Linked DNA regions of Homo sapiens: region 2 is linked to region 1. Evidence: fine-mapped expression QTL. A gene starts in region 1. The other region holds a variant in brackets. All regions are shown on one strand. Distances are between the middles of the regions. Region 1 holds the start of EIF3L (eukaryotic translation initiation factor 3 subunit L). Region 2 overlaps MICALL1 (MICAL like 1).

Region 1 (10,576 bases):
AAAGGGAAAATGTGTTGAAATTTGGAGATACCACTACAAACTGTGAGTAATAGTGTCTAAATGCAATGGATTTCCTTTAGTCAGAGTTCTCTAGGTAACCCCGACGTAGATGACTGATCTACAAAGATTTGTAATACAAAGTGATTACATTAGAGCAATAGTTTAGTTCGACAGCCAGTCACTGAGCCAGGTAACTGCTAGGTCCTGGACACAGGATCAGACTTGGTGCCCCTGAGATGCTCACAATCCAATGGGAGAAGACCAGGAAACAAATAAGTGTTCCTCAAGCAACATTTCATGGGTGCACGTTTTCATAAAACTTCTCACAATCCCGTACCCCACAAGCACTTCTATAAAGTAGACAAGAAGGACCATCCCTATTTTATAGGTGAGGAGTTGAAAAGCAGAGGGAAGAGACTCATTCACAGTTGCCCAGCTCTCACCGGACCAGGTCTTGTGTCCTGGCAAAAGTTCTTTCCATATATAAACCCTCCCACTCAACCCAGTTAAAATGTAATCTTTCCGCACGGTGGGTCACGCCTGTAATCCCAGCACTTTGGGAGGCCAAAATGGGCAGATGACAAGGTCGGGAGTTCAAGACAAGCCTGGCCAACATGATGAAACCTCGTTTCTACTAAAAATACAAAAATTAGCTGGGTGTGGTGGCGCACGCCTGTAATCCCAGCTATTCAGGACACTGAGGCAGGAGAGTAGCTTGAACCTGGGAGGCAGAGGTTGCGGTGAGCTGAGATCGCACCATGGCACTCCAGCCTGGGTGACAGAGCGAGACTCCATCTCAGAAAGAAACAAAAACAAAAAAAAGGCCTGGCGCTGTGGCTCACGCCTGTAATCCCAGCATTTTGGGAGGCTGAGGCAGGCAGATCACGAGGTCAGGAGATTGAGACCATTCTGGCTAACATGGTGAAACCCCGTCTCTACTAAAAATACAAAAAAATTAGCCTGGTGTGGTGGTGGGCACCTTTAGTCCCAGCTACTCAGGAGGCTGAGGCAGGAGAATGGCGTGAACCCAGGAGGCAGAGCTTGCGGTGAGCCGAGATCGCACCACTGCACTCCAGTCTGGGCGACAGAGAAAGACTCCATCTCAAAAAGAAAAAAAAAAGTAATCTTTCTCTTACAATTGGAAAAGCACTTCCAGAATTTTCAGTGTTTGCAGTCGCCATTGTGAGGTTTATCATTGTACTATATGGAAAAAAATGCTATGTTTATTTGTACTCTCCTCGTCTGCCCCATAATGGATACAGTGCTGAGACAGGATCTCTCACTGTCACTCAGGCTGGAGTGCAGTGGTGTGATCACAGCTCACTGCACTCAAGCTTTCCTCCCACCTCAGCCTCCTGAGTAGCTGGGGCCACAGATGTGTACCACCGTGCCTGGCTAATTATTTTTTTGATTTTTTGTAGACATGGTCTCACTTTTTTGTTCAGGCTGGTCTTGAACTCCTCGCCTCAAGGGATCCTCCTGCCTCCACATCCCAAAATGCTGAGATTACAGGAGTGAGCCACAGTGCCTGGGCCCCAATTTTTTTTTAAGATGGGGTCTCACTATATTGCCCAGGCTGATCTTGAGCTCCTGAGCTCAAGTGATCCTCCCACCTTGGCCTCCCAAAGTGCTGGCATGAGCCACCACATCCAGCCCCATGAAAATCTTCTGACTTCACAACTCCTTCTCAAATGTCATGAACATTTTGAGAATTGTTGTCAAATTGGAGCAACCTGTATCAAATTCCTGTCATATATGGACTATAAGATTTCAGGTAATTTCTTTTCTTTTTTTTTTTTTTGAGACGGAGTCTCGCTCTGTCGCCCAGGCTGGAGTGCAGTGGCAGGATCTCGGCTCACTGCAAGCTCCGCCTCCCGGGTTCACGCCATTCTCCTGCCTCAGCCTCCCAAGTAGCTGGGACTACAGGCGCCCGCCACTACGCCCGGCTAATTTTTTGTATTTTTAGTAGAGACGGGGTTTCACCATTTTAGCCGGGATGGTCTCGATCTCCTGACCTCATGATCCACCCGCCTCGGCCTCCCAAAGTGCTGGGATTACAGGCGTGAGCCACCGCGCCCGGCCAATTTCTTTTCTTTTTTCTTTTTTTTTTTGAGGCAGTTTTGCTCTTGTTGCCCAGGCTGGAGTGCAGTGGTGCAATCTTGGCTCACCACAACCTCCGCCTCCTAGGTTCAAGTGATTCTCCTGCCTCAGCCTCCCGAGTAGCTGGGACTACAGGCATATGCCACCATGCCCGGCTAATTTTATATTTTTAGTAGAGACGGGGTTTCACTATGTTGGCCAGGCTGGTCTCGAACTCCTGACCTCAGGTGATCCATCTGCCTTGGCCTCCCAAAGTGCTGGGATTACAGGTGTGAACCACTGTGCCAGGCCTCGGAGAAGGGTTATTATTTAAACTAGAAACTAAATGTCTCCCAAAGTTAGCTCGGTTCGAGCCAGGAATGATTAAGGGCAGTCTGAAGATTAAATGGAAGATGAGGGTTGGTTAGATCAGATCTCTTTCACTGTCATTATTTTCTCACTGTTACAATTTTTGCAAAGGTGGTTTCAGCAATAAAAATATTTCACAAATTTTACAAAAGCAAAGGACCATGAGGACATTGTTGGGGACCCTCCCTGAACCAAGGAAGAGACTGTGACTCTTCCTTGGTTCAGGGAAGGTCCTGAACCAAATCGAGGGTCGGTAAAGCTTAAGCTCCATTATTTCCAAATTTGTGTCACCTCTGGTGACAGCACAAGGAAGAAACACAAAACAAGAACGCAGCATAGGGAGTTGGGGCTGGGCATTGCAATTCTCAATAGGATGTTGAGTGGATGGCATCAGAGCAGACACCTGAAGGTGCCATGCAGATACCGATGGGGAAGGGAATGGGAGTGGGGGTGCCACTGCATTCGATTCTAGACTTGGATAACAGTGAGTGCAAAATCCCAGAGGTGGAGCGTGCCTCAGTGGGAAAAGCAAGGAGGGCGGCGTGACAAAGGGACCCAGAGAGTCCTGGTCACACAGCAAATCAGTGGCGGAGTAGGGACTGGAACTCGGATTTCCACTAGGTGTTGTGTATGGGCAGATGGCTAAACTAAGGCCTCTCCTTGACTCATACACCGGTTTTTATTGGTTTGCTTTATAACCCCATCTCTACCTTGAGGGTTTCCCCTGGCCTCGAACCCGGTGTACTCAAGAGCTGCCCATGTCCCAGGCTTCGCGACACAGCTGGCCTCATCTTTGCCTGCTCCAACTTTAATGTCCAAAGTTGGGTGGCTCCTGTTCTCCATTCCCTCTTACTGCATGGGACCAAATCTCAATTTTTTTTTTTCTTTTTTTTTTTAGACGGAGTCTTGCTCTGTCGCCCAGGCTGGAGTGCAGTGGCGCGATCTCGGCTCACTACAGCCTCTGCCTCTCAGGTTCCACCGATTCTCCTGCTTCAGCCTCCTGAGTAGCTGGGATTACAGGCGGACGCTACCACTCCCGGCTAATTTTTGTATTTTTAATAGAGACGGGGTTTCGCCATTTCGGCCAGGCTGGTCTCGAACTCCTGATCTCAGATCATCCACCCGCCTCGGCCTCCCAAAGTGTAGGGATTACAGGCGTGAGCCATCGCGCCCGGCCAAATCTCAATTTTTATCCCCAGTAAGTTTAGTCTTGTGAAGTCCGAACGTTTGAATAATTTACTCGCTGCAGGCAAACCGCCTACAACTAAATCCATCAGGCCCCCGTATCCGAATCTTCCTTCACGCGAGAAGCCGGCCATCTTTTGTGTAGCATTCTTTCTGGTTCCTCTAACTTTGCCTCTCCTTTACGCCAAATACGTGTCCTTATATCTGAATCTACACCACTATTATAGATTCACCTTCTTTGAGAAGTCCCTATTTGAAGAGAGGAAAATTCAGGCTACTTGTAACCCTCTTATTCTTTTTAGACGGAGTTTTCCCTCTTGTTGCCCAGGCTAGAGTGCAATGGCGCGATCTCGGCTCACCGCAACCTCCGCCTCCCGGGTTCAAGCGACTCTCCTGCCTCAGCCTCCCGAGTAGCTGGAATTACAGGCATGCGCCACCACTCCCGGCTAATTTTGTATTTTTAGTAGAGACGGGGTTTCTCCATATTGGTCAGGCTGGTCTCAAACCCCCGGCCTCAGCCTCAGGTGATCCGCCCGCCTCGGCCTCCCAAACTGGTGGGGTTACAGGTGTGAGCCACGGAACGCGGCTCCTCTTCCTTCTGGATATGGCTGTCTCAGATGGCCAGAGGCCTCGGAAAGGCTTCCGGTTTCCCGGCAGGCCCGAGTGGGGCTGAACTTCCGGCCTCAGGACGCAGGCGCGGGCCGCTCATTTCGCTCTTTCCGGCGGTGCTCGCAAGCGAGGCAGCCATGTCTTATCCCGCTGATGATTATGAGTCTGAGGTAAGGTGGCCGTAAGGGCGCGGTGGGCTCCACGACGGGGTGATCTCTGGGACCACTGGATGTGGGTCCCGGCGCGAGGCAGCTTCCGGGTCGCGGCCAGCTCCGGCCGACCTCCCGCCCGGCCCTCAGGCTGCTCCCACAGTTCCCGGTCCCTAGACAACCCTGGCTCTGCCCGCCCACTTCGCGTGTTCGATTGGCTTGTCCTTCCCCTTTCTAAGACCGGAGACTAAGGCCTGTTAGACGTTTCTGTGTTTCTGCACCTGAGTTTTTTTGGTCTAGGCTCCGTCTGGTCAAATCTCGCTGATTCCCACAGCCTCTTGTCCTTTGCTCCACCTCATTGCACCCGTAATGTTGTATTGTCATTGTCTGTTTACTGTCCCTTTTCTCTAAGGCGTGTGAGTTCCTCAAAGGCAGGCACAGTGTCTTATTCGCCTCTGTATCCTTAGCTCTCTGCTTGGCATCTAGACTCTAGGATGAGCGTTTTGAATTCACGACTTGGCGGCTGTCCTTGACTGTGTCTCTTTCCTTCTAGGCGGCTTATGACCCCTACGCTTATCCCAGCGACTATGATATGCACACAGGTGAGACCACGGGTTAGGCTGGCTGAGTACTCGTAGGGATCAGTTCCTTTGGAATGTCTTAGAACCAGCTCTGACAGGCATCAAAAATTGCTCTTTGATGGTCCAGGTTTGGAGTCAGTCATTAGCTGCCAGTGCGAGGGGTTTTATAAAGCCTAATAAACCAGGCTTTTTATCATAGTCCACCTCAGTCTTGGAAGAGAAGGATTACTTACCTGGCTATGGTTTTCTTGTGTAAACTATTAGCCAAATAAGAAAAGCTTTTTTGTTTTTGTTTTTGTTTTTGTTTTTGAGATGGAGTTTCCCTCTGTCCCCCAGGCTGGAGTGCAGTGGTGCGATCTCGGCTCACTGCAACCTCCGCGTCCCTCGTTCAAGCAGTAGTTCTCTTGTCTCAGCCTCCTGAGTAGCTGGGATTACAGGCGCCCACCACCATTCCCAGCTAATTTTTAAATTTTTTTAATAGAGACGAGGTTTCGCCGTGTTGTCCAGGCTGGTCTTGAACTCCTGACCTCAGGTGATCCACCCGCCCCAACCTCCCAAAGTGCTGGGATTACAGGCGTGAGCCACCGCGCCTGCCCCAAGGAAGAAAATCTTGATGTGAAAAATTTAAGTAATTCAAACCAAGCCCGAATGAAATCTTTTTAGGAGGTGTCTGAGGTTTCCTGAAACGTTATAGTGACTTGACTTAGTAGTCAGTGTTATCCATTGTTCTAAGTACTTTGTATGAAATATTTTGTTTAATCCTTACAGCAGTTCTGTATGTTAATGTCTCCTAAAGAATAGAAAATATAGCAGAGAGGTTTATTAGTAGTAACTTGGCACAGTCATATATTTAAAAGGTGACAGTTATTCATTCAAGAAATATTAAGTACCTGTTACCACTTACTTTCCAACAGTCTTGCCTCTCTCCCCTCCAACGCACACTTTTCTAGGCCCTGAGGGTATGTCTGAGTACAAGACAGACGAGATTCCTGACTTCCTAGACTTGGGAGAAGGGTGCAAAACAGATAATAAGTGAAAAATAACTTTAAGTCATGGTAATATTTTTGAAGAAACAGGGACAACGAGATTGGGAGTGACTTGAGATGTTTGTATCTCTGAGTATTCAAAAGGGAATTTTACGCAGACCTGAGTTTAGTTTCTGGGGTGGTCTTGCCATTTCGTTCTATCATATATGTGGGTTTGAGCATACTCTGTATTTGTTGTATCCAACCTCCAGGAGATCCAAAGCAGGACCTTGCTTATGAACGTCAGTATGAACAGCAAACCTATCAGGTGATCCCTGAGGTGATCAAAAACTTCATCCAGTATTTCCACAAAACTGTCTCAGATTTGATTGACCAGAAAGTGTATGAGCTACAGGCCAGTCGTGTCTCCAGTGATGTCATTGACCAGAAGGTGTATGAGATCCAGGACATCTATGAGAACAGGTATGGGCTACTGGCTGAAAGGGCCTCTTTCTGGGTGGGACTGGCCTGGTAATATAGTTCCTACAAATGAGGTGAGCACTCTGTAAACAGTACTTTCGGGGGGGTTGGGGGGTGGGGGTCTTTGTGAGTCCTTGAGGCTAGGGACATTTTATTTTGTTAGACTTTATTTTATTTATGCATTTGTTTATTTTTTGAAACGGAGTGTCACTCTGTCGCCCAGGCTGGAGTGCAGTGGCAAGATCTCGGCTCACTGCAACCTCCGCCTCCTGGGTTCAAGTGATTCTCCAGCCTCAGCTTCCCGAGTAGCTGGGACTACAGGCATGTGCCACCATGCCTAGTTAATTTTTTTGTATTTTTAGTAGAGACAGAATTTCACCATGTTGGCCAGGCGTGTGTTGAACCCCTGACCTCAAGTGATCCACCCGCCTCAGCCTCCCAAAGCACTGGGATTACAGGTGGGAGCCACCATGCCTGGCCTAATTTTTGTATTTTTAGTAGAGACGGGGTTTCATCATGTTGGCCAGGCTGGTCTTGAACTTCTGACCTCAAGTGATGTACCCCCGTTGGCCTCCCAGAGTGCTAGGATTACAAGCGTGAGCCACCATGCCCGGCCTGTTGGACTTTATATCCTCAGAAATTTATACAAAGCCTAAAATAATATCACTATTAACAATTATAATAATAATGATTAGCATTTGTTTTTATTACCAGGATAGATCCATCAATGTTCAGTGTGTTGTTTGTGTTTTTACTCATTTACCCTTCACAGTAAGCCCATGAAGTAGCAGTTTTTCTCATTTTACAGATGAGGAAACAGCACAGAAATAAGTCATGTAGCTAGTTTAATGGATGTGCTGAGATTTGAACCTGCAGTGTCTGGCACCAAAGCCTAATTTCTAAACTGTGCTATGCAGCCCTTCAGTACATATCAGAGCAAGCTGAACTCCGCAGGTTTTGAGGGGCTGCCGTTGTGTAATGAGCGTTAGAGATAAGATAGGTCAGTCAAAGCTGGGATAGTCAGGAGTGACTTCACCAAGGAAATAGAATTTAAGCAAGTCAGAAGGATGAGGGAGAGAAAACAAATAGCCAAAGGCCTATTGATCAATGAATAGGATCTCTGACATGTGTTTTCTTTTTTTGTTGTTTTGAAAGAGCTGATTGTAGTTGAAAAGCAGAGGAAACCTCAGACATTGCATGGTTTTAGGCCTCACCCCTGCCACTCTCGTGAGCCTAAGTTCTACTTGGTGTGGACTCCAAGGTCCTTCCCGCCCCTGCAAGCCACCCATTAGGTTGAGCTGAGAGATCAGCCAATGGGAACAGAGTCACTTATGACCAAGAAGAATTGATCTGGGGGTTAGTTAGTGAGGAGAGAGAAAGGGAGAAAACCTTGTTCGGAGGTTGAACACCTCCAGCCGAAGAAGGTGCAGCATCGAGGTCTTTCACCACTAGCAAATGGATCCAAGTCATGCGGCACCAAAAGAGGTTAGCAGCTGAAGGGTGTTGAAGTGACACAACACCAAAACATGCTACCAATGATGAATCCGTATCTGTACAGGTCTCCAGCAGCCTCAGTTCTTGCCTCCTCAAAAGAAAGAATTCGACTGAGGGGTAAAATGCTACCGATGATGAGTCCGTATCTGTACAGGTCTACAGCAGCCTCAGTTCTTGCCTCCTCACAAGAAAGAATTACACTGAGGGCTAAAATGCTACTGATGATGAGTCTGTATCTGTACGGGTCGACAGCATCCTCAGTTCTTGACTCCTAACAAGAAAGAATTCGACTGAGGGGCACAAGGCAGAAGAAGAGAGGGAGGCAAGTTTGAGAGCAGGAGTGAAAGTTTATTAAAAAGCTTTAGAACAGGAATGAAAGAAAGGAAAGGACAGTTGGAAGAGGGCCAGGTGGGTGACCTGAAAGGCAAGTGTGCTGAACTGTGTTTTCTTTATTCCCCGGGTCTTTTCTGATTAGAAGTATATAAATCAGCGCCTACAAAAATTAGCTGGGGCATGGTGGCAGCATGCCTATAGTCCCAGCTAGTTGGGAGGCTGAGGTGGGAGGATCACTTGAGCCTGGGAGGTTGAGGCTGCAGTGAGCTGCACAATGGAGCGAGACCCTCTCTCAAAATTAAAAAATGGACCTGATGTTCAATAGAAATGTAGCTAGACATTAATTTTAATTTTTCAGCCAAGCGAAGTGGAGATTTATTTAAAATATTATTTCTATATGTAATCAGTATTTAAAAATTAAGGGGATATTTGCCCTTTTTTTTCTTTATACTTAAAGTTTCCTAAATCCAGTGTGTATCAGAAATACTTGCTTTGTGTTTAGATTTTATAGAGTTTATGACTGGAAAAGTAATTCAAATTTGAAATTTGAATCTTCAAATAGTAGAGTAATTCCAAATAGACCTAAAAGTTTTCCAATACTGAGTTAAGTGTTGGTTTTTAAACTTAAATGGCAACTAACTGAAATTTAAAATTTAACTCTTTGCTTATATAGTAGCCACATGTAGCTAGTGGCTATTGCATTGGGCAGTGCCCGCAGATACAGATGACAGTTGAAGCCAAGCATCTTGTAAGTCTTTCTCTAGGAGAATGTGAGAAGAAATGCTGGTGCCTTAAGAAGTATGTTTCTTTAGGGATGGGTGGGCAGGCAAAGAAAGGATCTAGTAAAGGAGGCAGAAAGAAAAGTGAAAAGTAGATAGTAAATTGGCAAAGAAATGTCACAGGAACCAAAAAGTCTGCAGAAGAAACTGAGGAAGAGAGTATCACCAAATGTTTTAGTGAGGTCCAGATGAGAAAAAAAGCCAGTTGAATTTGGTAACTTGGAGGGCCTTGATAACCTTAGCAAGGTCAATGTCAGTAGAGTGATGGAAGCAACAGCCAGAGAGCAGTGGGGTGAGAAAGGGGAATTGGTAAGTATCGGGGACATAAAGGGTCACTGAGTGGCTTTGTGTTTTGTTTCTGTGTTTTTTCTGTTTTTGTTTTTTGTTTTTTGAGACAGGATTTCGCTCTTGTTGCCCAGGCTAGAGTGCAATGGCGCAATCTCAGCTCATCGCAACCTCCGCCTCCTGGCTCCAAGCGATTCTCCTGCCTCAGCTTCCCAAGTAGTTGGGATTATAGGTGTGCACCACCATGCCTGGCTAATTTTGTATTTTTAGTGGAGACGGGGTTTCACCGTGTTGGTCAGGCTGGTCTGGAACTCCTAACCTCAAGTGATCCACCCGCCTCAGCCTCCCAAAGTGTTGAGATTACGGGTGTGAGCCAGCGCGCCTGGCCTGTTTCAGTGTTTCTTTTCTGTTCTGTTTCTGTGTTTCTCCCCAACCCCCATCCCGTAGAGACAGGGCCTTCCTATATTGTCCAGGCTTGTCTTGAATTCCTGGGTTCAAGCGATACCCCTATCTTGTCCTCCCAAAGTGTTGAGATTACAGGCGTGAGCCATCATGCCTGGCCTGTTCAGTGTTTTTTAGGGGAACTTGAGCATGTTTATATGTTGGACTAAAAGAGCCAGAGAAGCAGGAGGGGTGGGGCTTGAGGAGATTGGAGGAAAGTATTAATAGCTGCTGAGGGCATCAGGAGAAGAAAATTAAACAACCTGTTGCAGGTTTGTCAAGTAGCAGTGTTTGGATTGGATAGGCAGCAGTGTTTAAATTGGATGCTGTAGGTCTGTTGTGGCCTTGGACTGCAGCAGACTGATTTGCTTCTGTGTTTAGAGACGTTTGGATGTGCTCCAGGAGATGGAAACGCTGTGTTAAAGAATGGTGGCCAAAAAAGTAGTTCTTATAGCAGAAAACAGCAAGCAGTTAAATATGGCTATAGTTAATGATACAGAGGCAGGAGATTATCCTGAAAAGCTTGATGGGTCCCTAACTGATACAAAAACAATATTTTCTTGTGTTGAGAAAGATTGAAGTGTGGAGTTGGGTTGAGGACAGTTGTGGGCTTGAAGGGCTTTGGCCTCAGCTCTGTTTATTTGACATCTTCCCCTTTCTAAGCCTGGGTCCTCATCTGTAAAATGTTAGGATTGGCATTCTCCAGTCCTTTTGGAATTTTAGAGATTTTTTTCTTGATTTTTAGCTGGACCAAGCTGACTGAAAGATTCTTCAAGAATACACCTTGGCCCGAGGCTGAAGCCATTGCTCCACAGGTTGGCAATGGT
Region 2 (11,887 bases), 62 kb after region 1:
CCGCAGCCGCAGCCGGAAACCGGGCCCGCGCGGCGGCCGCCGTCCCGGCCAAGCCGGGGCCCCGAAGCCAGAGCCGGAGCCGGGCGGGCCGCGGGGTCATGGCTGGGCCGCGGGGCGCGCTGCTGGCCTGGTGCCGCCGCCAGTGCGAGGGCTACCGCGGCGTGGAGATCCGCGACCTGAGCAGCTCCTTCCGGGACGGCCTGGCCTTCTGCGCCATCCTGCACCGGCACCGGCCCGACCTGCTGTGAGTGCGGGGCCCCGGGCGAGCGGGCGGCGCGGGGCGGGCTGGGGCCGCGACCGCCGCCCCCCCTCAGTAACACGAAGCCCGGGCGGTGACAGGCGCCGCCCCCGGACACGGAGACGCCGACCCCCCCGACGGCCCCGGACGCCGGGCGGGTCCCTGAGACCCCGGCCCAGGGCGCCCCTCCCCCGCCCGGCCGCCCTGACCCCGCCCGTGGGATCCCGAACTCTCCCCCGAGGCTGGTCCCTCCGCGGGGACACTGGCCCCGCCCACAAAGCGCTGATTTCCGCCGAGGATCGCTGAACCCCTAAGCCCTTGACCTCTTTGAAGGGGTGTTGAGCCCTCTTTGGGGGCCCTGGGCCTCTCCTACCCTAAACTCTTCTCCACGGGCTCGCCGGGCCTCCCCTCTCCCCCGAGGCTTCCCACTCGGGGTGGCCCCTTGCTCCGGGTGTGCAGGTGAACCCCCACTTCTCTGACCCCCAAATAGGAGCTTGTCTCCGGACAGTAGCACAGTTCCCGGCACAGAGGAGACCTCGGCTAACAGGTGTTGGATGAATGGATGTACAGACCCTGTGCTTTCCCCACGCCCCCCAACTTAGGACGCAGCCCTGCCTCCCGGGTGTGTGCTCGATGGCCCTGCAGCCCTCCTCAGTGGGGCACGCAGGTGGGGCGCGCAAGAGGAGTCACAGGCCGGCAATGTTGGGAAGACTCCTAGGATCCGATTGATAGACACCAACCGGGTGCTGCAGGTTGTGAAATGGCCCCTTCCTGCCCAGAGCTGCCCAATGAGGTTCTCATGGGAAAATGCATTCAGACTCCCCGGAACAGTTGACTTGGAGCCTCTGTCTTTGCTCTCTCTGCCTTGAGCCCTGGAACCTCTCCTCCTTTCGTCCCTTCATTCCTAAAACACTGGGTGAGTTTATCTGGTGCCATTCCTTGCACTTCAGGTCTCACCTGTGAATCAGGGAGGAGAGTTCTGGTCCCTACCCCTTTCGCATGCAGCCCTCTTGCCAGGGCTCCCCCAGCCTGGCAGATGGAGGCTTTCTGTGCCTGTTCCACCTCCAGATTTGCACTGTCCGAGGGCAGCATGTGGGAAGGCTTCTAAGGGATTGCCTCAGGATTCCATGATGCAGGTGCACCTGGTTTACCTGTATGTACCCTGCAGTACCGTGTCTGTGGGTGGTGGCTTGGGCCCTGGAGGAGAGGGTTTTGGGGCTGTGGATACAGAAGGGAACAAGATGAGGTGGTCATGTAGGTGGGCCCCTGCCCGCTGTGGGGCATGTGACACCCATACTAATGGAAGCACAAGGTTGATGCCTGGTTGCCCAGGAGCAGGGGGTAGAAGGATGGAGGAAAAGGGCACCAGGGTTAGACCTGGGCATTGGAAGGGAGGGCCCAAGGGGTCTTCTGTTTTGTTTGAGGGGCAGGAGTGAGGCAGGAAGCAGGGACAAACCCAGTGTGGGAGGGGACTTGGGTGTGAAGTGAAGCCATTTGGTGGGCCTGAGCCTGGTGGCATCAAAGTAAATAAAGGCCGCCTGGTTTGTGTTTAGCTTCTCCATGTCTTAGGCGCATGGCCTTGGGTCCTCATGGGCTCTCTCCAGGCATCAGTGTCCTCATCTGTGAGGTGGGATTGATAATGTGACACAGCTCACAGAAATGTGAGGATTGCATGAGATAACAAGCATTCATTTAACATTAGTTACTGTGAGTAACTAATGTTACTTTTTTTTTTTTTAATGTTTTTTATTTTTTTGAGATGGGGTCTCACTCTGTCACCCAGGCTGGAGTGCAGTGGCACAGTCATGGCTCACTGCAGCCCCCACCTCCCGGGCTCAAGCAATCCTCCCACCTCAACCTCCCTAGTAGCTGGGACCACAGGCACACGCCACCACGCCTGTCTAATTTGTTTGTATTTGTAGAGATGGGTTTTCACCATGTTGCCCAGGCTGGTCTTGAACTCTTGAGCTCAAGTAATCTGCCTACCTCAGCCTCCCAAAATGCTGGGATTACAGGCATGAGCCACCATGCCTGGCCCAATAACAATGTTTGATTTCTTCATTTATTCAACCAGTATTTGTAGAGTCATATTGCTCTGTGCTGGACACTGTACCTGGTAATGGAAGTACCAATCGACAAAACAGGCAACCCTACACGCTCTCCCACACCTGTAGGGGAAACGTGTATAAACGATGATGGCAATTCCATGTACCCTATCAGAGGGCTGGGGGTGGGAGACCTCCTAGGGAGAATATAGTCTTCAAGGAGATGGCAGGAGCCAGGTGAGGGCTGCTGGGTGGACGTTCTGGCATGGGACCCCATCTGAGCAAAGGCAAGGGGCGGGAGGTGTGTGCAAAGCTGGAGGCTGTGTAGCTGAGTGGGGAGCACAAGGTAGCGAGTTGGGAGATGCAGTTGGGACAGATGGCTGACAGCTGCTTTTGCTGGCTAAGGAGCATGGATAGGGGCCTCAGGGAACCATGCAGGGTTTTTTTTGTTTTTGTTTTTGTTTTTTTGAGATGGAGGCCTGTCACCCAGGCTGGAGTGCAGTGGCGTGATCTCGGCTCACCACAACCTCTGCCTCCCGGATTCAAGCGATTCTCCTGCCTCAGCCTCCCAAGTAGCTGGGATTACAGGCACGCACCACCATGCCTGGCTAATTTTTGTAGTTTTTAGTAGAGATGGGGTTTCACCATGTTGGCCAGGCTGGTCTCGAACTCCTGACCTCAGGTGATCCGCCTGCCTCGGCCTCCCAAAGTGCTGGGATTACAGGCGTGAGCCACCATGCCTGGCCGAGCCACGTAGGTTTTTTTTTTTGAGACGGAGTCTCGCTCTGTCAGCCAAGCTGGAGTGCAGTGGCATGATCTCTGCTCACTGCAAGCTCCACCTCTTGGGTTCACGCCATTCTCCTGCCTTAGCCTCCCGAGTAGCTGGGACTACAGGTGCCCGCCACCATGCCTGGCTAATTTGTTGTATTTTTAGCAGAGACGGGGTTTCACTGTGTTAGTCAGGATGGTCTCAATCTCCTGACCTCGTGATCCACCTGCCTTGGCCTCCCAAAGTGCTGGGATTATAGGTGTGAGCCACCGCGCCTGGCCAACCACGTAGGTTTTAAGCAAGGGAGGGATGTGGCTGGAAAAAATGTGCAGGGGAGGGTGGCTCCGCTTCTGAGATCCAGAATCATGTCCAGGCATTCATTTGCAATATTGCCAGCGCATTGCACAGGAGAGAAGCTGAGGCCCAGGTCCCACATAATGTGTAGGGAAGTCCTCAGTGATGGGTTGGGAGGATCTCCGTGAGAATAGGAGTGGCCTAGAGTGAGGGCAAGAATCATCTCCTAAATTGGTTCAGGCTTCTGGGGCTGTGGGCCCTGCCTGGGTGAACCCAGTGTTGGCCCAGGGCTCTGCTGGGACGAGGGTTGTGGGGGCTGGGCCATCCCTCCGCACCACCCGAAATCCAGACATGCTTAAGCTCCTTTGAGGGCGTGGACCATGTGGGTTTCATTTCTGTGTCCTTCATCTTCCCCAGAGCCAAGTAGAACTCCGCAGGCCTCTGAAGACTCTCAGAAAATATATGTGTTACCAAAACACAGATGTTAATTAGGGACAGAGATGGGGGTGGAAGAAAACCTGCAGGATCCTGAAGGTTTTTTACAGTTTTCACACTGTTTTCAACATTGATTCATTCAACAAACATTTACGGAGCATCTTCGAAATTTGGGGAACTGTGTAGGGAGTTGGGGGCACAGAGTAGCTAGAATGTGACCCCAGCCTTCTTGGAACACTTCTGGGGTGACCGAAATAAACGGCTGAGACAAGTTGCTTTTGTCTCATTTGGTCTTGGAAAAAGCCTCTGTTGGGGGCTGGGTACCATGGTGTTTTCCTCGCCCTGTTGCAGTGTCCTGAACCGGACCGGGAGACAGAGGTTTCGAGAGGTGAAACACCTTGCTAAGGTCGCACTCTGAGGCAGTGGCAGAAAAGGGGAGCTAGGGAGGCAGCCCAGGGGAGAAGGAAGTGGCCTGGTCAGAGTGGCAAAAAGGGAGCTGGTGCCCAGACATAGTCACCTTGCCTCTCCCCGTCCACCCAGCCCTGGGGCACCAGACCCCTTCCAAGGTCCTCAAGCAACTCTTTCCTGCCCAGGGTTCACAGTCCCTGGCCCCTGCCTGGAAAAGTGTTGGGGGCAGGAGGAGGGGGCTGTGCTTACCTGGCTCCCTCATATCTGCGAGGCCTGCCCTTTACCAAGCTGGGACTCCACCAGCTTGGGAGGTGGTATTAGTGCTTTTCCTGATTTGCACATGGGACAATGAATGCTGGAAGGACTGCTGATCCCCCCAACCCCATGGTCACATGGGAATTCAGCCCTCAGAGGCGGCGTGGCCTGCTCTTGCCTCTGCCCACCCATCTCCGGCAGTCAGGGCTGCAGTTTTCAGCCATAGAAGGGCAAGGCTGCATGCGGATGCACCCAGGAGGCTGCCCGGCGGGAAGACTGAGCTGTCTCTGCTGGTTTCAGCGGCCTGGAGTGGGGAGGGAGGAGGGGGATAAATAAAGCCTGCAGGCCAGCCAGCTGTCCCGTGCTGGGGCCCCCAGACAGGCCCTGCCACCTCTCACCTTTCCTAGTTTAGAAAATCCCTCACTGCTTCCCCA[A/G]TGGAGGCTGCCCCAGGAGTGGCCCAGTGGGGCCAACCAGCTGTTCTATGCCAGCAGCTCCGGAGTATGTACATTTCCACTCTGGTTCAAACTTGTTCTTCTATTCACGGCCCCATTAAGAAAAACATTCATCTGCAGGCTGGACCGGGTTGGGATGCAGCAAGTTGGTGTGGCTACTCCGAGTGTGTGACACACCTGCAGGGGCCTGTGAGCAGTGGGAGGGCCAGACATGTGGATTCCCAGGGCTGGTGGCTTCCTTTCTCCAGGCCTCAGTGTCCTCATCTATAAAATGAGATCAATTCTTGCCAAACAGAGTTGCTGTGAAAAGAAAGTAAATGAGACAGAGGAGCCCAGCACTGCGCCCTGGGGGAGGTCACATGCGGGTCTTAGTTATGTCTTTGCCACGGACTCCAGGGGTGGCTTCCTGCAGAGAGGCAAAGGATCTTAAGCTTGAAAGCCTGGGCTTGAGCCTCACCCCTTCCCAGTGATTTCCTAGCCTCTGCTTGGATGCCTCCAGGGCCCGTGATCTCATGCCCTGCCCTGCCCTGGCAGCTCCAGCTCTAGCAGCGAATGTTTGCTGCCTCAGTTTCCCCCTTAGTAATCCACAGACTCCCCCCCAGCAACCCTGCTGAGGTTGATGCTGGCTGGGACAAGGTCTTCTCTGTTCAGCTCCTTTCTGACTCTGACCCCGCCCCTATTTCCCAGTCACCTCCCCTCTTGACCAACCCTCCTCCCTTTGCCTCTTGCAGAGATTTTGATTCGCTTTCCAAGGACAATGTCTTCGAGAATAACCGTTTGGTAAGTTCCCGGACAGGTGGAAGCCCAAGAGGCTCTGTGTATGTGTGTGTGTGTGTGTGTGTGTTTGGTGGGGAGGGCAGGGGTCTTGCACGGTGGCTGCCCTTGTACACCGGCCCTGGCTGCACCTTTCCCCACCCTCTGCTTCCCACCAGCCTCCTCATGCATGGAGCACCAGGCTTCCCCTTTCTCCAGGCCATCCTGTGGTGCTTGGGTGGGATTAATACTGAGGGGAGCCCACAGTCACCCCATCCCACTGAAGGGAGCTGGGCCTAGGCTGAGGGGTCGCCCCCTAACGCCTCCTCCTCTTCCTGCTTCGGCTGCTCCCGCCCTTGTACCTGTCACCACCCCAGGCCTTTGAAGTGGCTGAGAAGGAGCTGGGGATCCCCGCTCTCCTGGACCCCAATGACATGGTCTCCATGAGCGTCCCTGACTGCCTCAGCATCATGACCTATGTGTCCCAGTATTACAACCACTTCTGCAGTCCTGGCCAAGGTGAGAGGGGGACTCAGCGTTTCACGGAGGCTGGCCCAGGGGGTGGCCCTGGGGATGTCTGATGCTTGCTACTGGTTTTCTGAGTTGTAAACAGGCTGCTGAGGAGTGTGTCATTCATTTACTTATTCATTAATTCACTCATTGAAATATTTCTTTTTTTTTTTGAGACAGAGTTTCGCTCTTTTTTTTTTTGAGATGGAGTCTTGCCCTGTCACCCAGGCTGGATTGCGATGGCACGATCTCGGCTCACTGCAACCTCCGCCTCCTGGGTTTAACCTCCTGCCTCAGACTCCCAAGTAGCTGGGATTACAGGCACCCGGCACCACGCCCGGCTAATTTTTTGTGTCTTTAGTAGAGACAGGGTTTCACTATGTTGGCCAGGCTGGTCTCAAACTCTTGACCTCGTGATCTGCCCGCCTTGGCCTCCCCAAGTGCTGGGATTACAGGCGTGAGCCACTGTGCCCAGTCCCACTTTTTTTTTTTTTTTGAGACGGAGTTTCACTCTTGTTGCACAGGCTAGAGTGCAATGGCACGATCTTGTCTCACTGCAACCTCCGCTTCCTGAGTTTAAGCAATTCTCCTGTCTCAGCCTCCTGAGTAGCTGGGATTACAGGCACCCACCACTACACCTGGCTAATTTTTGGTATTTTTAGTAGAGATGAGGTTTCACCATGTTGGCCAGGCTGGTCTTGAACTCCTGACCTCAGGTGATCTGCCCGCCTCAGCCTCCAAAAGTGCTGGGACTACAGACGTGAGCCACTGGTGCCCGGCCTGACATATATCTTGAGTAAAAGAGCCTGTGCTGGGCTCTGGGGATGCAGCTGTGAATGTAATCACTGCTGAAGTCCCGTGGGGGAGATAGACACCAAACACACCCACCAGAAAATGAACACAATCATATCAGAGGAGACACAGCAGGTTGCGTTCATCCGCTGCATGGAGTCCACCTCCCCGGCACCCACCCTCACTTCCTGTTTGCAGACACTTCCTTGGGTTTTTCCTCCAGCAGGGAAGTGGCTCTGTCTGGTGAGGCTGCTGTGCTGTCTTCCACAGAAGTGACTGAGAGCTGAGAGGCTGGGGAACTGGGGAACCAGAGTTGCAGGGGCTACAAAGTGACTCGGTTCTGAGTGAGGTCACTGGGCATTCCCATGCAAGGACCTCCCTTGCAGGTAGCTGGGCCTCCCCTTCTGCAGAGATGAGATAGGCCTAGAGAGGGGAAGCAAGGAGCTCAAGATCACACAGCAGACAAACTGAACAGCTGGGTTGAGAATCCAGGTGTCCTGAATCCAACGCTGGATTCCTGCTGTCCCTGGGTCTGAGTAGAGCCCATTTCAGCCCCTCCCTCCTGCCTCTGCTGTCGGTCTAGACAGTTCTGGCCCAACTCTTTTTTTTTTTTTTTTGATACAGAGTTTTGCTCTTGTTGCCTAGGCTGGAGTGCGATGGCGCGATCTCGGCTTACTGCAACCTCTGCCCTCGGGGTTCAAGTGATTCTCCTGCTTCAGCCTCCTGAGTAGCTGGGATTACAGGCATGCACCAACATGTCCGGCTAATTTTTGTATTTTTAGTAGAGATGGGGTTTCGCCACTTTGGCCAGGCTGGTCTCAAACTCCTGACCTCAGGCGATCCACCTGCCTCGGCCTCCCAAAGTGGTAGGATTACAGGCATGAGCCACTGCGCCCGGCCCTGGCCCAACTCTTTAAAGTGTTTTATGAAGTCAGAGGTTTCTTTTCTTTTCTTTCTTTTTTTTTTTTGAAATGGAGTTTCACTCTTCTTGCCCAGGCTGGAGTGCAATGGCGCGGTCTCAGCTCACTGCAACCTCTACCTCCCGGGTTCAAGCGATTCTCCTGTTTTAGCCTCCCAAGTAGCTGGGATTACAGGCACCCGCCACCACACCCGGCTAATTTTTGTAGTTTTAGTAGAGACGGGGTTTCACCATGTTGGCCAGGCTGGTCTCGAATTCCTGACCTCAGGTGATCCACCCACCTCAGCCTCCCAAAGTGCTGGGATTACAGGCATGAGCCACTGCACCCAGCCATCTTTTCTTTCATTATATATATATATGTATATATATACATGCATATACATATATATGTACATATATTATGTGTATATATGCGTGCGCGCACACACACACACACGCACATATATGTGTATTTTTTTTGAGACAGGGTTTTACTCTGTTGTGTTGCCTAGGCTGGAGTGCAGTGGCATGATCACAGCTCAATGCGTCCTCAACCTTCCTGGGCTGCGGTGATCCTCCTATCTCAGCCTACTGAGAAGCTGGGACTACTGGTGCATGCAACCACACCCAGCTAACTTTTATATTTTTTGTAGAGGTGGAGTATCACCATGTTACCCAGGTTGGTCTTGAACTCCTAAGCTCAAGGGATCTACCCTTCTCGGCCTCCCAAAGTGCTGGGATTACAGGCATGAGCCACTATGCCCAGCCATAAATAAATAACTTTAGGAAAAAAAGAAAAAATAGCCGGGTGAAGTGGCTCATGCCTGTAATCCCAGCACTTTGGGAGGCCGAGGCAGGTGGATTGCTGTTGAGACCAGACTGGGCAACATAGCAAGAACCTGTCTCTACCAAAATAAAAATAAAAAAATTAACCAGGCATAGTGGTGGCACACCTGTAGTCCTAGCTACATGGGAGGTTGAGATGGGAGGTTTGCTTGAGGCCAGGAGTTTGAGGCTGCGGTGAGCTATGATCACGCCAGTGCACTGCAGCCTGGGCAACAGAGCGAGACCCCATCCCTAAACAGAAAAAATAAACAAGAAAATTTAGAACATGGCAAAAGCAGAAAAATTAAAATAATGTCTTATACCCCTTCCCCCTGATGTAACACTAGGGATTAAAATAATTGAACAAATAACATTATGTATATTTTAATAGAAAACAAAATGAAAGTATTTCCAGACCCCAGAGGCTCTGGTGAGAGGCAGTCTAAGGTTGGGGTTAAGAGCATGGACTCAAAATTTTCACTCTGCCATTTCCTCTTTGGGTGACCATGGGTCAGTTATTTAACCACTCTGCCTCAGTTTCCCTTTTGCAGTGAGGATAGGAATAACACCCATCTCACAGGGTTGACTTGAGGAGTAAATGAGGAAATGTATAAACCAGTGTTTGGCACCTATTTAGATTAGTATTCTTTTTTTTTTTTTTTTTTGAGACAGAGTCTCGCTGTGTCATCCAGGCTGGAGCTCAGTGGCACAACCTTGGCAGACTGCAGCCTCTGCCTCCCATGTTCAAGCGATTCTCATGCCTCAGTCTCCCAAGTAGCTGGGATTACAGGTGCGCACCACCACGCCTGGCTTAATTTTTGTATTTTTAGTAGAGATAGGGTTTCACTATGATGGCCGGTCTGGTCTGGGATTTCTGACCTCAAGTGATCCACCCACCTTGGCCTCCCAAAGTGCTGGGATTACAGGTGTGAGCCACTGCGCCCAGCCAAGATTAGTATTCTTACTACTTCTTATTTCACTGATTAGCGTTTAGCTGGATTCCTTAGAATCGCAATTCAGCCTTAGCCTGCGGCCTTCCTTGTGGCCAAACCTGAATCTCTCTCTACTGAGCTCATCTCTGGGACTCTGCGGGGTGGGTGGGGTGTGGGCAGCTGTTGGTGGTACGCAGCTCATTCGTTGGCCCTCTCTGGGCAGCCTGGTGGGCAGGGGCAGCCCTGGTGGGCACAGCTTACCGTGCTGAGTGTGGGCATGGGCACTCCCTCGCCCTGCAGGGATTCTCATTGATAAAGGTACAGTTTGTGGCAGACAGTCCTTTGTTATGCTGCCTGTATTTTCAGCCTCGCAATGTATTTTCATACCTTCTCTAATAAATCTGCCTTTTGTAATAAAAAAGAAAAGGTACAGTTTGTGCCTTTCATACAACTTGGCCCCTAAATGCAAACCATTTTTATCCCATCTGCTGCTTAAGCAAAGGAAACAGTGATGTGTTCCAACTCTGGAGGCAAAGCTGGCTGTTCGACTCCCCCAGATGGTCCTGTACTGTACTTTCTGGGCGAGTGGAGGCATTTCAAGAGTGACTTTGACTAGCCTTGACTTTTTACCAGACTGGGTAAGTTTGGAGCCTGCCCCTGGCTGAGATGTCGTGGTGCTGTGCTGAGTGTTCAGCTGTGCCACCACGCTCAGTGGGTGCCAGTGACCCCGGGCACAACAGACAGACCCCCACCCTGGAGGAGCTGCAGCCTGCTCAGGGAGCCAGGGCAGGAGTGAAGGAAGCCGAGTGGCTGTGGGAAATCAGAAAGGGGTTGGGGAGTAATGTCAGGATGAAGTCCAGCTTCTTCATGTGGCTTCTAAGGGCCTCTCCCCAGTCAGCTGGAGCCACTCCTGGCACCAACCATAGTGTTATTGAATTTATTTCTTTTTTTGAGACAGAGTCTTGCTCGGTTGCCCAGGCTGGAGTGCAGTGGCGCGATCTCAACTCACTGTAACCTCCACCTCCCAGGTTCGAGCGATTCTCCTGCCTTAGCCTTCCGAGTGGCTGAGTGGCTGTGATTATAGGCGCGCACCACCATGTCCAGCTGATTTTTGTATTTTTAGTAGAGATGGTGTTTCACTATGTTGGCCAGGCTGGTCTTGAACTCCTGACCTCAAATGATCCACCCACCTCAGCCTCCCAAAGTGCTGGGATTATAGACGTGAGCCACTGTGCCCGGCCTGAGGAGCTGAGTCTTAGAGGAACCCAGGGTGGGTGGGTTTGTTCTGGTGAGGGGGTGTGCAGGCCGGGTTCTGGCCCCCAATACCCACTTGGGGATAGGCAGGACAGCTCCTTGTCAACCCCAAGGAGGCAGCGCCTTTCCTGAGCTGTCAGGGCAGCACCATATGGTTCCTTTCTTTTCCTTTCCTTCACCTCCTCTACCCTGGTGGCAGGGAAGCTGCTGGTGTAGCCACACGCGGGTGCTGTGTTCTGTGATCGTACTGTTGCGCCATTGTTCGGATTGGCTCTGTGCAGTAGGAGTCACTCTCCCCATTTGATGGAGGTTCAGTGAGGTTCATGGCTTGCCCTCAGCACTTGGCTTAAAACTGGAAGCGTCCCCGGGCCCGTGTGAAGCGGGAGCCAGCTCCTGTCCCACTGCATTAGGTGGTCTGCCTTTAGGTGATGGCTACAGGTCTCAAATCTTCAGCCAGGTTGGGACCTCCTGGGACTCCAGGATCTCCACCTGCTTCAGGACCCCTTTCTCATCTCTTGGCAGCTGGTGTCTCGCCACCCAGAAAGGGCCTTGCACCCTGTTCCCCGCCGTCTGTAGCACCCACTCCAGTGGAACCAGAAGATGTGGCTCAGGTAGGCAGATACCTGGAGAGGTGGGAGGGCCAGGGGTGGAGGGGGCGAGTTATGTGGACGACTATCATTGCAGTGACTGGGTCATGTGAGGAAGTTAGCCCTGACAGTGTTCAGAGGGTGCTTGTTCTCTGTCCCTGCCCTATTGGCTTTGGGAACAGGTGTCCCTGACTGGGGCAGTGAGGCATGGGTCAGGAGGCCAGTCCCGTTCTATGGGCAGGGAGCCCTACCTCCTTCTCCAGGACTCAGGTGGGGTCAGGAGATGCCAGCTCTGGCAAGGGGAGAGAGGGCAGTCCACAATGCTGACTTCACCATCATGGGACTGTCAGGAGTTACACACGTAGTAAAGCAAAGATTCCCCTTGATTCCTGTGGAGACAGCTGTAAACTTCCCGGCTTGATTTCCTTTAATCCTCTCAA

The links. PIP is the estimated chance that this variant, and not a neighbour inherited with it, causes the effect.
Region 2: its variant is fine-mapped to the expression of EIF3L in whole blood (TOPMed, PIP above 0.99).

The regions. Positions count from the first base shown.
Region 1 is chr22:37,845,071-37,855,646 of GRCh38, forward strand. It overlaps EIF3L (eukaryotic translation initiation factor 3 subunit L), which reads left to right and starts at 4,349. Exons shown (of 13, transcript NM_016091.4): 1 at 4,349-4,412; 2 at 4,945-4,993; 3 at 6,210-6,420; 4 at 10,495-10,574. The coding sequence starts at 4,380. It overlaps MIR659 (microRNA 659), which reads right to left and starts at 2,704; the gene lies at 2,608-2,704. It also overlaps a transcript of ANKRD54 not described here. RefSeq lists enhancers at 3,468-3,990, 3,991-4,513, 4,514-5,035 and a silencer at 7,232-7,526.
Region 2 is chr22:37,906,325-37,918,211 of GRCh38, forward strand. It overlaps MICALL1 (MICAL like 1), which reads left to right. Exons shown (of 16, transcript NM_033386.4): 1 at 1-244; 2 at 5,628-5,676; 3 at 6,027-6,168; 4 at 11,383-11,471. The coding sequence starts at 99. Among named protein-coding and RNA genes, the nearest start is that of MICALL1, 6.0 kb to the left of the region's middle. RefSeq lists enhancers at 1-295, 296-1,111, 1,112-1,925, 3,915-4,708, 10,745-11,245 and silencers at 1-305, 416-525, 11,618-11,780. The variant A/G (reference allele first, on the strand shown) is at 4,879.